Linked DNA regions of Homo sapiens. The protein of the gene in region 2 purifies or fractionates together with the protein of the main gene of each other region. This does not show direct contact. Each region holds a gene or a part of one and is shown on either strand. Other genes may lie near its edges.

Region 1 (3,500 bases), on a different chromosome or scaffold from region 2:
CAATGCCAGGAATCTGGAGGGGAGTCAGACTGGGGCCTGCCAGCGGAGAACACAGGTGGTCCCAGCCCAGAGCCAGCAGACTACTGAGAGGAGCGGGGCAGGGGCTGGGGTACTCCAGATGAGGGAAGGAGGACCTGCCTGGGAGGTCACAGAGGGCTCTGTGAAGCCTGCTTATCAGAAAAGGCTGGAGGAGCAGTTTGTGCAAAAACTCAGGGGTGGGAGAACAAGTGTTAGGGTCCATATTCATTCATTCAAAGTGAGTCCCGGTGCAGTGGCTCACGCCTGTAATCCCAGCACTCTGGGAGGCTGAGGCAGGTGGATCACTTGAGGTCAGAAGTTCGAGACCAGCCTGGCCAACATGGTGAAACCCCATCTCTACTAAAAACACAAAAATTAGCTGGGCTTGGTGGCGCACGCCTGTAATCCCAGTTACTCGGAAGGCTGAGGCAGGAGAATCGCTTGAACCTGGAAGCCAAAATCGTGCCACTGCACTCTGGCCTGGGTGACAGAGCGAGACTCCCATCTCAACAAGAAAAAAAAAACCCAAAAACCAAAATGAGTCCCAGAAGCCCCTGCTTGGTGCCAGGCTGGAATGTGCAAGGCTGAGGATCCAGTCATTGAGCCCTGCCCTTGAAGGCTTCTCACTTTGATGAGGGATCAGAATTGTTGTAACAGTGCAGTGGAAGCCCCACAGGGTGGCCCGCAGAGAGCGAGGGGTCTTCAAGGTCCAAGAGAGGTTTTTCAGGCTGAACAGAGGCAGAGAACATGCTGGGCAGAGGAGACAAGGTCAGGTCAGCCTGTTGTCTGCCTGGAGTTGTAGGTGAGGCTGAGCTTACACAGGGGCAAGAAGTGGCAGGAAAAATGGGACTGGGGCATTAGGAACCACAGAAGGCTTTGGACTGAGCAAAGGCTAGCTCATATCTGAGGTCCATGAATTGGAGGGGAGACTGGATTGTACTCCATGGCCTGAGTGTGTTCAGAAGTTAGTTGTACCTGGTGTATTTGAGAAATTATTTGCCTTGGGGGATAGCGAGGCTGTGAGGTGGGTGGGCTCAGGTCAGAAGGGGCTTCCGGAGCCCAGGCTACACACTGGGCTCCATGCAGCTTCACAGAACCCTCATCTGTTATTCAGGAATCCAAACATCTCTAGAAGCTGAAAGTTCTTTTCTAGGTTCAGCACAAACTCATTTCGCTGCAGTCATCCTGAACTAATGTGAGGCTATTTGCGGACTTTTTTTTTTTTATCCCCTTAAGTGTGTCATGGTCTTAACTGCAGAAATATTAGTGGGTTTGATCATGGGGTGCTCCCCCAGGCCCTCCTGGGAGTTTATGTAACAATCTGTATGCCAGCCATTTGCCTCTCTAAAACCTGAAAGATTCAAAATTCTGAAGCCCATCCAGCTCCAGAGGCCTCCTCTTGTGAGCAGAGGGGAGTCACAGAAGGTTTGATGGGGGCAGGGGCAGGCTCTGTTGGGAGGGATGAAGTGTCAAGGGGAGGCTGCAGGTGGGGACTCCTGAGTAGGCTGGGGCCTCAGGAACAGAAGAGGGGATGGGCTGGTGCTATATCTGGGGCAGAAGGAACCAGATTTGGGTTATTATCTGCCTGGGAGAGCTTAAGGAGGGCATGAAAGAAAGGGAAAAAGACAAACAGTGTTGGATTTGCAACTGGTCTTAACAAAAAGAATTCACAAAGCATTTTATATTTTTAAAAATTCTGGCTTGTACTCATTTATAAACTAAAAAAAAATAACTATATGATGCAGGCAACGTGGTGAGACCCCATCCCTACAAAACATGAAAAAAATTATCCAGGTGTGGTGGCACATACCTGTAGTCGTAGATACTTGGGAGGCTGAGGTGGTAGGATCACTTGAGCCCAGGAGGTTCAGGCTGCAATGAGCCATGATTGCACCGCTGCACTCCAGTCTAGGTGGCAAATCAAGACCTTATCTCAAAAATAAAAATTTGGCTGAGTGCAGTGGCTCACGCCTGTAATCCCAGCACTTTGGGAGGCCAAGGTGGGCAGATCACGTGACATCAGGAGTTTGAGACCAGCCTGGCCAACATGGTAAAACCCCATCTGTACCAAAAAATACAAAAATTAGCTGGGCATGGTGGCGCACACCTGTAGCCCCAGCTACTCTAGAGGCTGAGGCAGGAGAATCCCTTGAACCTGGGAGGAAGGGGTTGAAGTGAGTCGAGATCATGCCACTGCACTCCAGCCTGGGGACAGAGCGAGACTCTGTCTCAAAAAATAAAAATAAAATAAAAATTCAACTATAGAAGGAAGACCCCAAGAGGATGACTCTCCATACCTAATAAGCACAAATTTAGTTTTTTTTTTAATCTTTGAATAGAGCACTTTGAAGAAAAAGTTAAGTAAACCTGCTATTGACTGTTAATGAACTACTACATTTTAAATCCTCTGAATCTCCTGTAGGCACCGTTTTATGAGTGTGACTTACCTAAACAGCATTTCACCAGCTTGAAAACAACCAAATTAAATGCAGAAGGGTCTTAACATGTATGTCTCAGAAAAATGGAGCTAATACATTCATTTGTGTCTGCATACCTTCCCTGTGGCTTAGGGCAGATTAAATAATCTCTCTGTGCCTTAGTCTCCTCACCTGTAAAATGGGGCCAAAAATAGGACCTACCCCAGGATTCAGTGACTCAGTATTTGTCACGTGCTACCTGGCATGTAGGAAGTCCCATGTAAGTGTCAACCTGCTACTGTTGTGTTTTTTTTTTTTTTTTTTTTGATCATTCTTGGGTGTTTCTCACAGAGGGGGATTTGGCAGGGTCATAGGACAATAGTGAAGGGAAGGTCAGCAGATAAACAAGTGAACAAAGGTCTCTGGCTTTCCTAGGCAGAGGACCCTGCGGCCTTCCGCAGTGTTTGTGTCCCTGGGTACTTGAGATTAGGGAGTGGTGATGACTCTTAATGAGCATGCTGCCTTCAAGCATCTGTTTAACAAAGCACATCTTGCACCGCCCTTAATCCATTTAACCCTGAGTGGACACAACACATGTTTCAGAGAGCACAGGGTTGAGGGTAAGGTCATAGATTAACAGCATCCCAAGGCAGAAGAATTTTTCTTAGTACAGAACAAAATGAAGTCTCCCATGTCTACTTCTTTCTACACAGACACAGCAACAATCTGATTTCTCTATCTTTTCCCCACCTTTCCCCCTTTTCTATTCCACAAAACCGCCATCGTCATCATGGCCCGTTCTCAATGAGCTGTTGGGTACACCTCCCAGACGGGGTGGTGGCCAGGCAGAGGGGCTCCTCACTTCCCAGAAGGGGCGGCCGGGCAGAGGCGCCCCCCACCTCCCGGACGGGGCGGCGGCCGGGCGGAGGCGCCCCCCACCTCCCTCCTGGAGGGGCGGCTGGCCGGGCGGGGGCTGACCCCCCCACCTCCCTCCCGGATGGGGCGGCTGGCCCCCCACCTCCCCCCCGACGGGGCGGCTGGCCCCCCACCTCCCTCCCGGACGGG
Region 2 (3,939 bases):
CATTATTGAGAGTACTTTGAGATGTCTAACAGTGGATACCATTGGTAGTTTCCAAGCACCTATTCCAACTATCTCCCTCATTATGCCATGCACTTTGGCTAGGACTGAAACCACCTCAAGTTTAAGGGGCAATCTCTGCCTGGATTAAAACAAAGGGTCAAAGATGGAGTCTTTAGATTCTGGGACTATAATCTCTACCTTTAATCCTATACATCTTGAGACACTGATTTCTTCAGTAACAGGCTGAAGTGCTCTCAGTTGGTCTAATCAGAATGAAGGCTAAGATTTTGTTCTATTATTGAGGAAGAAAATATCTCTCATTCTGTCTTCTTGAGCTGAAAAACAAAGCAGATAGCCATAGATGTTGCTGGAATAAATCTTGGGAAACTGAGGGAGGGCAGTCTTAGAAATAAGCCTGCTTTAAATGAAACTAACATGCTTGTGCTTGTGTATTTATTATTTTTTGAGAAGCTGGAACTAAATCAAGGATTCTCATAATGTGTTCTACTCCCAATATCTTACTTTACTTTCTAGCAGTTCACAATTCCTTGCTACCAAGGAAATCTATATAAATGCCTTCTTGTGCTATCATAACTATCAAAGTATGTCCCATCTCATGGTTAATCCAGTTTCATATCCTCTGAGAGGACTTCTAAAATGACCCATGTATAGTTTGCCTTTTCATTACCACCTAAGGAAAGTCAAGTAGTGATAGAATTTTGTACAGCTTAAAAATATTATGGTTGTTTTATGTTTCCAGTCTTCTCAGAAAGATTACAAACCACTGGGAGCCAGGAATCACATCTTGTATTTCTGTATTCACCACAACTAAGCACGTTTGGTTGTATGGAGAAGGGGGAAAGATAAATGCTTTAAGATGAATATTAACAGCATATCAAACTAAAGAGAATATGAAATAATTATTACAGAACGTGCAATATATTTGTAATCACTTGAACACAATGAATAAAACAATATTTGTTTCCGGAGGACATATAAGTGAATGGAATTTAGGTAGCTTTCACCAAACTGTGAAAATCTATGGAGACACTTGGTGGCGCTGCAGGATAACATCGTGAAAAATATATTCACTGGATGGCGTTGTGAACACTGATATCCAGTGCACACAGAGAATCAGAAGACAGAAACAACAAGCCTTCAAGAGGGTGACCTGGAAACCATTCAACAGGGTTAAAATCCTTAGACCACAGAGGATTTGGTGGACAAGTCAGAGACGCGTTCCGCAGAGCTGAAGCCTTTCTTCAAGAAGCCTACAAGAAAGGAACTATGGAGAACCAAGGGACACGCACTCAGCAGATAAGGCAAGTCCTGCTTCTCTTTGTTTTGCTCGGAATGTCTCAGGCGGGCTCTGAAACCTGGAGCTTTTCTGTGGCAGAAGAAATGCAGAGCGGGAGTTTTGTAGGCAATCTGGCAAAGGACCTGGGGCTGAAGGTGAGAGAACTGTCCTCACGGGGGGCTCGGGTGGTCTCTAATGATAAGAAACAGCGTTTGCAGCTGGACATAAACACTGGGGATTTGCTCTTAAGTGAAACACTAGACAGGGAGGAGCTCTGCGGTTCCATCGAGCCTTGCGTGCTACATTTGCAGGTGTTAATGCAAAACCCCACGCAGTTTTTACAAATTGAGCTTCAGGTCAGGGATATAAATGATCACTCTCCCATCTTCTCGGAAAAACAAATGCTCCTAGAAATCCCAGAGAACAGTCCCGTTGGTGCTGTGTTCTTACTAGAAAGTGCGAAGGATTTAGATGTAGGAATCAATGCTGTAAAAAGCTACACAATAAGCCCCAACTCTCATTTTCACATTAAAATGAGAGTCATTCCAGACAATAGGAAATACCCCGAGTTAGTTCTGGACAAGGCGCTGGATTATGAAGAGCTCCCGGAGCTCAGTTTCATCCTCTCTGCTCTGGATGGTGGGTCCCCTCCCAGGTCTGGAACTGCCTTGGTCAGGGTGGTGGTTGTGGACATTAATGACAACTCCCCTGAATTTGAGCAGGCTTTTTATGAGGTGAAGATTCGGGAGAATAGCATCCTTGGCTCGCTGATTTTGATTGTCTCAGCTTGGGATTTAGACTCTGGAACAAATGGTGAAATATGCTATACCTTTTCCCATGCCTCAGAAGATATTCGCAAGACATTTGAAATTAATCAAAAGTCTGGAGAAATTACTTTAAGAGCACCTCTGGATTTTGAAACGATTGAGTCATACTCAATAATCATTCAAGCCACAGATGGGGGAGGACTTTTTGGAAAATCTACAGTCATAATTCACGTGATAGATGTAAATGACAATGCTCCTGAAATCACTGTGTCATCAATTACCAGTCCAATCCCAGAAAATACGCCAGAGACCGTGGTTATGGTTTTTAGTATCCAAGATATAGACTCTGGGGACAACGGAAGAATTGTTTGTTCCATTCCGGAAGACCTCCCATTCGTGCTAAAATCTTCAGTTGAGAATTACTACACGTTGGAAACAGAGAGACCACTGGACAGAGAGAGCACAGCCGAGTACAATATCACCATCACCGTCACCGACTTGGGGATACCCAGGCTGAAAACCGAGCACAACACAACTGTGTTGGTCTCTGACGTCAATGACAACGCCCCCACCTTCACCCAAACCTCCTACACCCTGTTCGTCCGCGAGAACAACAGCCCCGCCCTGCACATCGGCAGTGTCAGCGCTACAGACAGAGACTCAGGCACCAACGCCCAGGTCAACTACTCGCTACTCCCGCCCCAGGACCTGCACCTGCCCCTCGCCTCCCTGGTCTCCATCAACACAGACAACGGCCACCTGTTCGCCCTCAGGTCGCTGGACTACGAGGCCCTGCAGGCTTTCGACTTCCGCGTGGGCGCCACAGACCGCGGCTCCCCGGCTTTGAGCAGCGAGGCGCTGGTGCGCGTGCTGGTGCTGGACGCCAACGACAACTCGCCCTTCGTGCTGTACCCGCTGCAGAACGGCTCCGCGCCCTGCACCGAGCTGGTGCCCCGGGCGGCCGAGCCGGGCTACCTGGTGACCAAGGTGGTGGCGGTGGACGGCGACTCGGGCCAGAACGCCTGGCTGTCGTACCAGCTGCTCAAGGCCACGGAGCCCGGGCTATTCGGCGTGTGGGCGCACAATGGCGAGGTGCGCACCGCCAGGCTGCTGAGCGAGCGCGACGCGGCCAAGCACAGGCTGGTGGTGCTGGTCAAGGACAATGGCGAGCCTCCGCGCTCGGCCACCGCCACGCTGCAAGTGCTCCTGGTGGACGGCTTCTCCCAGCCCTACCTGCCGCTCCCTGAGGCGGCACCGGCCCAGGCCCAGGCCGACTCGCTCACCGTCTACTTGGTGGTGGCGTTGGCCTCGGTGTCTTCGCTCTTCCTCTTCTCGGTGCTCCTGTTCGTGGCGGTGCGGCTGTGCAGGAGGAGCAGGGCGGCCTCGGTGGGAAGCTGCTCGGTGCCTAAGGGCCCCTTTCCAGGGCATCTGGTGGACGTGAGCGGCACCGGGACCCTTTCCCAGAGCTACCAGTACGAGGTGTGTCTGACGGGAGGTTCCGAGACAAATGAATTCAAGTTCCTAAAACCGGTTATCCCTAATATCCAGGCAAAAGGTCTTGGGAAGAATAGTGAAGAAAACTCCACCTTTCGAAATAGCTTTGGATTTAATTTTTAGTAAGAATGCTATTTACATTTGCATGTACTTTTTTAGTTTTATGTAACCATATCAATATTATTTAGTCTTAAACTAGTTACGTTATTATGCAATACGACTAATTGTATTTTTAATTTTTTCTTTTCTCCCCCAATTTTTTTTTTTTTTTTGAGACCGAGTCTCATTCTGTCGCCCTGGCTGGAGTGCAATGGTGTGATCTCAGCTCACTGCACCCTCCGCCTCTCGGGTTCAAGCAATTCTCCTGCATCAGCCTCCCGA
Region 3 (3,500 bases), on a different chromosome or scaffold from region 2:
ATTTGAATGCTCCCTACTTTGTTTCAGCCCTCATCACCATTTTAAAACAGGAAGGAAAGAAGAAAACTTACTGGCATGTTTAGTTTTAGTCATTTCATTATTTTCCCTTCAGTGTGAACTGCTGTCATGTTGAAAAATAAGGGGCTCCTCCCTCGATTCTCCCAGGAAAATGGTTCTTTGTAAGGAGAAATCATGCTCAGCTGTACCATGTTATCAAGTGGTTTGTTGTTATTTTTAAGCCCAGAAAACTACTTCATCAAGGATGGAAGTAGTTAACGCTGAGCAGTAAAGAAGTCACGCGGCCAATGATAAATCAGAACATTTGTGTGGGAGACTAGAAGGAACCTCACCACTGGTACGGTTTCCCCGCTTTTGATTTTTAAAGACAGGATGTAAAGTTCTGTGTAACTGTTGGATGCGGCACCTACTTCATTATGTACACGCAGCACATGTTAGTAACAACAATATTAGGCACACGAGGAAGAGGATTTTTTTCTAAAAGAATTCAAGGAACACATTAGGGGCGGTGGGATAGATCACCTGGGGATTGGCACTAGTTTACCACCACTCACAGCAACATCCACCATCTAGCTAACCTTTCTTTACTGACCTACTCCAGGCACACAGACACCTGCAGAACCAGTAAGAAATACCCACAGGCTACTTCAGCACTGACTTTGACCATAATCACTTATGTGCATTTCCCCAAAGAGACTGCACTGCTGGCTCGGCTTCCAGTGCAATTTCTAAGAATTTCACTTAATTTTTTTACACTTAAATTTTATTTTATTTTTTAGAGAGGGGGGTCTCACTATGTTGCCCAGGCTGGATTCAAACTCCTTGACTCAAGCGATCCTCCCGCCTCAGCCTCCCGAGTAGCTGGAATTACAGGAACATACTACCGTGCCCGGCTGAGCTTCACTTAAAGTTCATCTTAGGCAAGCCAGCATCATTATTATCTTAATTCACTGAATTTAACGATTTCAACCGTGAGCATTTTAGCCTTTCTCCAATGTGTCCGTAAGCATTAACTTCAAACCCAAAGTCCTCAAAGATAAAATCACCTGTGAGGCAATAACATTCCAAACCGACAAACAATGAAAACGGTGAGTGTTCACCAGACGTGCCTGCTGGGTATGCAGTACGTTAGTGTGACAGCGCAATTTTTAAAAGTTCTGTCAGCTGTGTTCCCGCACTGGGGCCTCCTCCCCACAACCCTGTCATGTAGACGTGAGGAAAGTGTGCCTCAGACGGGCTAAGTGACTCGCCTGTGATCACACAGCTTGGTGGTGGGAGATGTCAGGCTGTAGGACAACTCTTCTGTCTCCTCTTCCGAAGCACGTCAGCCACCCACCCAACCTGGATGGAGTTCCCACCCACTTGCCGTTCTCTGCAGCCTGGCCCCACCTGCCTCCCCTTTTCCGGCTACCTCAGGATTTTAACTCAAATACCACGTGCCACCGTGGGTGGAACACATCAACAGAGGAAGACCAGTTACGGAGCTTAATTAAGACAAGTTCTAACAAAAAGCAGGCTGCTTTTCGTAAGGCCATTACCCCTATTTGAATGCTATTCACTGTTGTGTAAGACGAAGGTAGAAAGTGTAGCCCCTCAGCATGAAGTTCTTTTTCCAAGGCCCCAGTCTCGGCCCTGCCTAGTCTCCTGGCTGAACTTGTGGTAAGAATAAAATAATGGTGTGGAAATGTTCTGGAAATGCCGAAGGGCCCTGCAAGCATGGCATCTCCTCCACTGGGAACCTAGGAAGGAGACAGGAACAAGAGAAATAAGAAACCTGAAAGGAAGGTCTGGAGATTCTAGGGAGCAGCCCCAAGGGGCCCATAAGGAATGGAAACCCAAAGAAAGAAACTCAAAATAGCAACAGTCTGCAGCTCTCGAGGGCTGGGCGCCTGGGATTCCAGCCCTCCCGTGCAGGAGTCTCTGACACGAGCTCAGTCTTCCTCAGCTGACTCCAAGTTACCTCCGATGCCAAGGAACAAGCCTCCTAACAGCCAATTGATGGCGAAACTTTTGTTTAAAAGCTGAAGGAAAGAAAATTCCCCCAAAGCTATACACAAAAGGTACTTTTTGAACTGAAAGTTATTCTGTTCCTGGAGATGTAGAAAACAGAAAACTGGCTCTGGAAGATGTAAGCCCTCATTTTCTTTCCCCCGATCCCTGCAGCCTTACATGTTCTGTTCTGGGTTTTTTTGTTTGTTTTGTTTTTGACTCTGTCATCCACGCCTCAGTGCAGTACTGCAATCATGGCTCACTGCAGCCTTCAACTCCCAGGCTCAAGCAATCCTCCCGCCTCAGCCTCTCCAGTAGCTGGGACTACAGGCACGTAGCACCATACCCAGCTAGTTTATTCTATTTTTTGTAAAGACAAGGTCTCACTATGTTAATCAGGCTGGTCTTGAACTCCTGGGTTCAAGCGATCCTCTTGCCTCAGCCTCCCAAAGTGCTGGAATTATAAGCATGAGCCACCACGCCCAGCCAAATGTTCTGTGTGTGTGTGTGTTTTAAGCCACATTTCCTGGCTGAGGTTACTCCCTAATAAGACAAATTTTCTGCCAACTGAACAACCATCTGCTCCCCTCGGAACCTGAGGAGGATTAGAGGTGTCCTGAACTCCACGGAACTCAACACCTGCTGCAAATTCCTGGCAGGCCTTATCTCAGCAGCACAGGCTCTGTGTGTTGGCCCCACCCAGATCCCTCCCCCGACTGGTAAGATCTTTTTAGAAAAAGAGCTAATAGGAAAAATTCCACCAAGATACAACACAGGCCTCGAGGGGCTGAGGGGGGAGGTGGCCAGATGCTGATAAGCCCAAGTCAGTGTGTGGTGTCAGAAAGAGAAAACTCTGGGCCCTACAGAAACTCAGCCCTGAGTTGGGAGGCAAAGTGAACTCAGAGGGAATAATCCTGCCTCACCTCTGGGGTCCTTGGATGTCTTCACCAACAATGCAGGCTATCTGTGGACCAGACACCTCCCAAAGCCCCCAATACTAAAACCATCAGGCTGAGCAGGAGGTGATGGGACAATTTGGAAGCATGAAAGAAAACAACGCCAGTCCAATAAAGAGAAGAAACACGGTGCTGTTTTCTACCAGCCGTACGTCCAAACACTACCAATGGGTATTGGAGGCTGTAAGAAATGTCAGGCCCTTCCCTCCTGCCATTCCACCCTGACAGGGAGGCTGGCAATGCAGCACCCGCTGCGGTAGGCATCACACATGCACCCTCAGGGTGCTCAGCCCGGCTGTGGATTGAGACCTCCAGGGGCTGCCAGGTGTGGAGCGGGAGGAGTGCGAGGCTTGAAAATAACAGGCCTGGGTTTGAAGGCAGGCTCTGCTGCTTCCTAACTACTTGCCCTCCTGTAAAATGGGGGTAGTGACCCCAGAGGGTTGCTATAAGAATGGAAAACAATGAACATGGCAGGGCTCGTCACATTCTCACGATGCACTTTAAGGAAATATTCCCACTGCGGTCAGCCTCAATCCC
Region 4 (3,500 bases), on a different chromosome or scaffold from region 2:
CTGATTTGTAATTGAGCGCCATAAACACTAATTGAATCCTTGTCAACAGCTGGGATGTAGCACTCTGCCTGTTTTTTTTTTTTAAATCAGTTGTTTGAATGAGGACACATAGCATGATGATGTTGTTGTTAATTCACAGATGATGTTAATCTAGTATCCACATTCCTGAAAATTGGATGGCAGGTTTATTTAGAAAACAAAATGATCTTGATGGGTTAGAATAGGACATCTCATTAACAATGTAACTTTTTTTTTTTAAATAAAGATGGGGTCTCACCATGTTGCCCAGGTTGGTCTTGAACTCCTGGGCTCAAATGGTCCTCCCACCTCAGCCCTCCTTAGTAGCTGCGATTACAGGTGTGCACCACCATCCCCATCATCCCCACCACATGATAACTCTTTTTTTTTTTCTGAGGTGGAGTCTCGCTTTGTTGCCCGGGCTGGAGTGCAGTGGTGTGATCTCAGCTCACTTCAACCTCTGCCTCCCGGGTTCATGCCATTCTCCTGCCTCAGGCTCCCGAGTAGCTGGGACTACAGGCACTGCCACCACGCCTGGCTAATTTTTTGTATTTTTAGTAGAGACGGGGTTTCACCGTGTTAGCCAGGATTGTCTTAATCTCCTGACCTCCTGATCCGCCCACCTCGGCCTCCCAAGTGCTGGGATTACAGGCGTGAACCACTGTGCCCGGCCGATAACTCTTAATAAAGTATAAATGTAAACTCTTTTCCTTTGCCTATTCCCAAAAAAGAAACTTGAAGAATACACTGGCCGGGTGGGATGGCTCACGCCTTTAATCCTAGCACTTTGGGAGGCTGAGGTGGGCGGATCACTTGAGCCCAGAAGTTTGAGACCAGCCTGGGCAACAGTGGTGAAACCCGATCTCTACACAAAAAAATACAAAAACTTGCCAGGCGTAGTGGTGCACGCCTGTAGTCCCAGCTGCTTGGGAGGCTGAGGTGAGAGAATCACTTGCGCCTGGGAGGTGGAGGTTGCAGTGAGCCAGGATTGTGCCACTGCATTCCAGCCTAGGTGACAGAGTGAGACCCTGTCTCAAAAAAAAAAAAAAAAAAAAAAAGGATACACCATACAAAATGGAGTTTCCAAAGCACATATTATGAATGACATAGATCATTTTCATTATATTTGAAAAAAGCAAGATTCAGAATTATATTCATGATTATAATTGTATTGACTACTATGTCTCAGTATTATTGAGACAAATCTCAATTTTGTGTTAAATATATATTAGAAAATATATAGAATAGTTCTAGATTGTATAATTAGGAATGGTTTTCTTTTTATTTTGCCTTTCTGTTTATTTCCCAATTTTCTACAATGAGCATGGAGCAAGGAGTAATAATAAAACACATTGAAGATAAAGTGTTTAATTTTTTTGATGATTTAAATGTGTAGCCTAAGGATAGTTAATTTATATTGTTACAGTAAAGATTTTCTCCTTCCTTTATTTGCCATGATAGAAAAGTCAGCATCAGCCATGGTGCTCTCTGCACATAACAGTCTGTTACTGTTTTTTTCCTCTATTACTAGGAATCCATTGAATCAGTTTTCATTTTTTTCCCCTTTATCAAAGGTTGAATTAATAAAAGGAAATTTACAAAGTGTTGGACTTACACTTCGTCTTGTCCAGTCAACTGATGGGTATGCTGGGCACGTCATCATTGAAACTGTGGCTCCAAACTCGCCTGCTGCAATTGCAGATCTTCAGCGGGGAGATCGACTTATCGCCATTGGAGGTAATTATGCTAATATGCATTATACTTTACCTTTACAGATAAACTACAAAGTAGGTGTGAGGTTTTTCCTTTCTTCCTTTTTCCTTATTTCTATAATATGCATATGTCACTTTTATAATGGAAATAAAGTAATAAACTTTATTATAAATAAAAATTCAAAGGAGGCCTTCAAAATACATTTAAAACATACATGCCATTTTAGTTCTAGTGTATAAATCTTTAAAATACTTTGTTTAGACCACTTTTATATAACCACTCTAATCCTTCCCTTCCCACCTTCTACTACTCTATTTATTTTTTCTTGAATGTGAAAGTAAGGGCAAATAAACAGGTTATCTTTCTGTACGACTACCACCATTGCTACTCTGAACCTAAAATTGGTAGTATTAGCACTACTGCCCCCATCACTTAGCACTAGATGATGAGCAGAAGAACCAACATTCCTTTTCCAGGAGGGCACATCTGAACTGTCCTGTGATCCTGTGTCATCTAAATGGCCAGCCATTTGTTAGTATGTTGTTGCTCAGAATTCAGCCCAAATCACTGGTGGAAAAATGTGTCACTTACATGCCTTCCTATCACTTGGATTGTTAACAGTAAAAACTCTCTGAAGATAGCAGGTTATTTGCTTGTATATAAATGTCTAAGCAGTAGGACTCACTGTGCACAGCAGTGAGGGGAAAGTCCAAGCCTTTTCAACCTTTGTAGTACCTGTCCCATCTATTCTAGGCTTGTTGAGAGATTTCTTGAACATATGGTTGGTCACAGTTGATCTGAAAAGGGCAATGTGATATTTTCTTTCACAGCTTAGACAATAAATAAGTTAGAACAGTTCCCAAATCAAGGTGCAGTTGTCCTTGGTTACATGTCAAAGAAACTCTGCCTTTGATTCAAATCCACCTTGACAATAAAATAATGAAAATTATTTAGTTGCATATCTGGGAGCCCAATTAAGTCAATATTTTCACATGGGAATCTCTGATCATGGCATAAGCAGTGCTTCTCAGACTTTCCCATGTATGCCAGTCACCCAGACCTGATGTTAAAATGTGCATTCTGAATCAGGAGACCTGTAGTGAGGCCCAAGATTCTTCATTTCTCACAGACTCCTCCCAAATGATGATGCTTATGCATAAACACTTAGGGAGGCATAAAATAGACATCATTCATTATATTAATATCATTTAATATTTTGGTTTTAGCTACAGGATAAAATTAATTTTTTCGGTCTTTTTTGGGGGTTGTGTTTCAATTACACAAGTAGTAAATACCTATTATCAAAAATAAATTAATTAACCTAAGCGATATAAATGTATACAGAGTGAAAAAGCAAAAGTCATCCCTTGACATCTAACATTTGTTAATTACAATAACAACAGGCCGGGCTCAGTGGCTCATGCCTGTAATCCCAGCACTTTGGGAGGCCGAGGCGGGTGGATCACCTGAGGTCAGGAGTTCGAGACCAGCCTGGCCAACATGGTGAAACCCATCTCTACTGAAAATATGAAAATTAGCTGGGCATGGTGGCAGGCGCCTGTAATCCCAGCTACTCAGGAGGCTGAGGCAGGAGAATTGCTTGAACCTGGGAGGCAGAGGTTGCAGTGAGCTGAGATCATACCATTGCACTCCAGCCTGGGCAACAAGAGCGAAACTCCATCTCAAATAATAATAATAATATGTATTAAGATGAAGGGCAGATACAATACACATTCATTGTTTTAAAAAAAAGAAAAACCTTGGAACAT

What was found. Proteins that work in one complex are often made in the same cells at the same time.
Region 1: the proteins of PCDHB11 (region 2) and XRCC1 purify together in Homo sapiens (affinity purification with mass spectrometry; 2 studies listed by BioGRID and IntAct, with this or other methods). This does not show direct contact.
Region 3: the proteins of PCDHB11 (region 2) and EMILIN2 purify together in Homo sapiens (affinity purification with mass spectrometry; 2 studies listed by BioGRID and IntAct, with this or other methods). This does not show direct contact.
Region 4: the proteins of PCDHB11 (region 2) and PDZD8 purify together in Homo sapiens (affinity purification with mass spectrometry; 2 studies listed by BioGRID and IntAct, with this or other methods). This does not show direct contact.

Annotation. Positions count from the first base shown.
Region 1 is NC_000019.10:43,548,028-43,551,527, reverse strand, and holds part of XRCC1 (DNA repair protein XRCC1), read left to right. Parts: intron 1-3,500. UniProt on the Homo sapiens protein: Scaffold protein involved in DNA single-strand break repair by mediating the assembly of DNA break repair protein complexes. Negatively regulates ADP-ribosyltransferase activity of PARP1 during base-excision repair in order to prevent excessive PARP1 activity.
Region 2 is NC_000005.10:141,198,488-141,202,426, forward strand, and holds the start of PCDHB11 (protocadherin beta-11 precursor), read left to right. Parts: upstream 1-1,139; 5' UTR 1,140-1,287; coding exon 1,288-3,681; 3' UTR 3,682-3,939. UniProt on the Homo sapiens protein: Potential calcium-dependent cell-adhesion protein. May be involved in the establishment and maintenance of specific neuronal connections in the brain.
Region 3 is NC_000018.10:2,853,506-2,857,005, reverse strand, and holds part of EMILIN2 (EMILIN-2 precursor), read right to left. Parts: intron 1-3,500. UniProt on the Homo sapiens protein: May be responsible for anchoring smooth muscle cells to elastic fibers, and may be involved not only in the formation of the elastic fiber, but also in the processes that regulate vessel assembly. Has cell adhesive capacity.
Region 4 is NC_000010.11:117,288,441-117,291,940, reverse strand, and holds part of PDZD8 (PDZ domain-containing protein 8), read left to right. Parts: intron 1-1,592; coding exon 1,593-1,755; intron 1,756-3,500. UniProt on the Homo sapiens protein: Molecular tethering protein that connects endoplasmic reticulum and mitochondria membranes. PDZD8-dependent endoplasmic reticulum-mitochondria membrane tethering is essential for endoplasmic reticulum-mitochondria Ca(2+) transfer.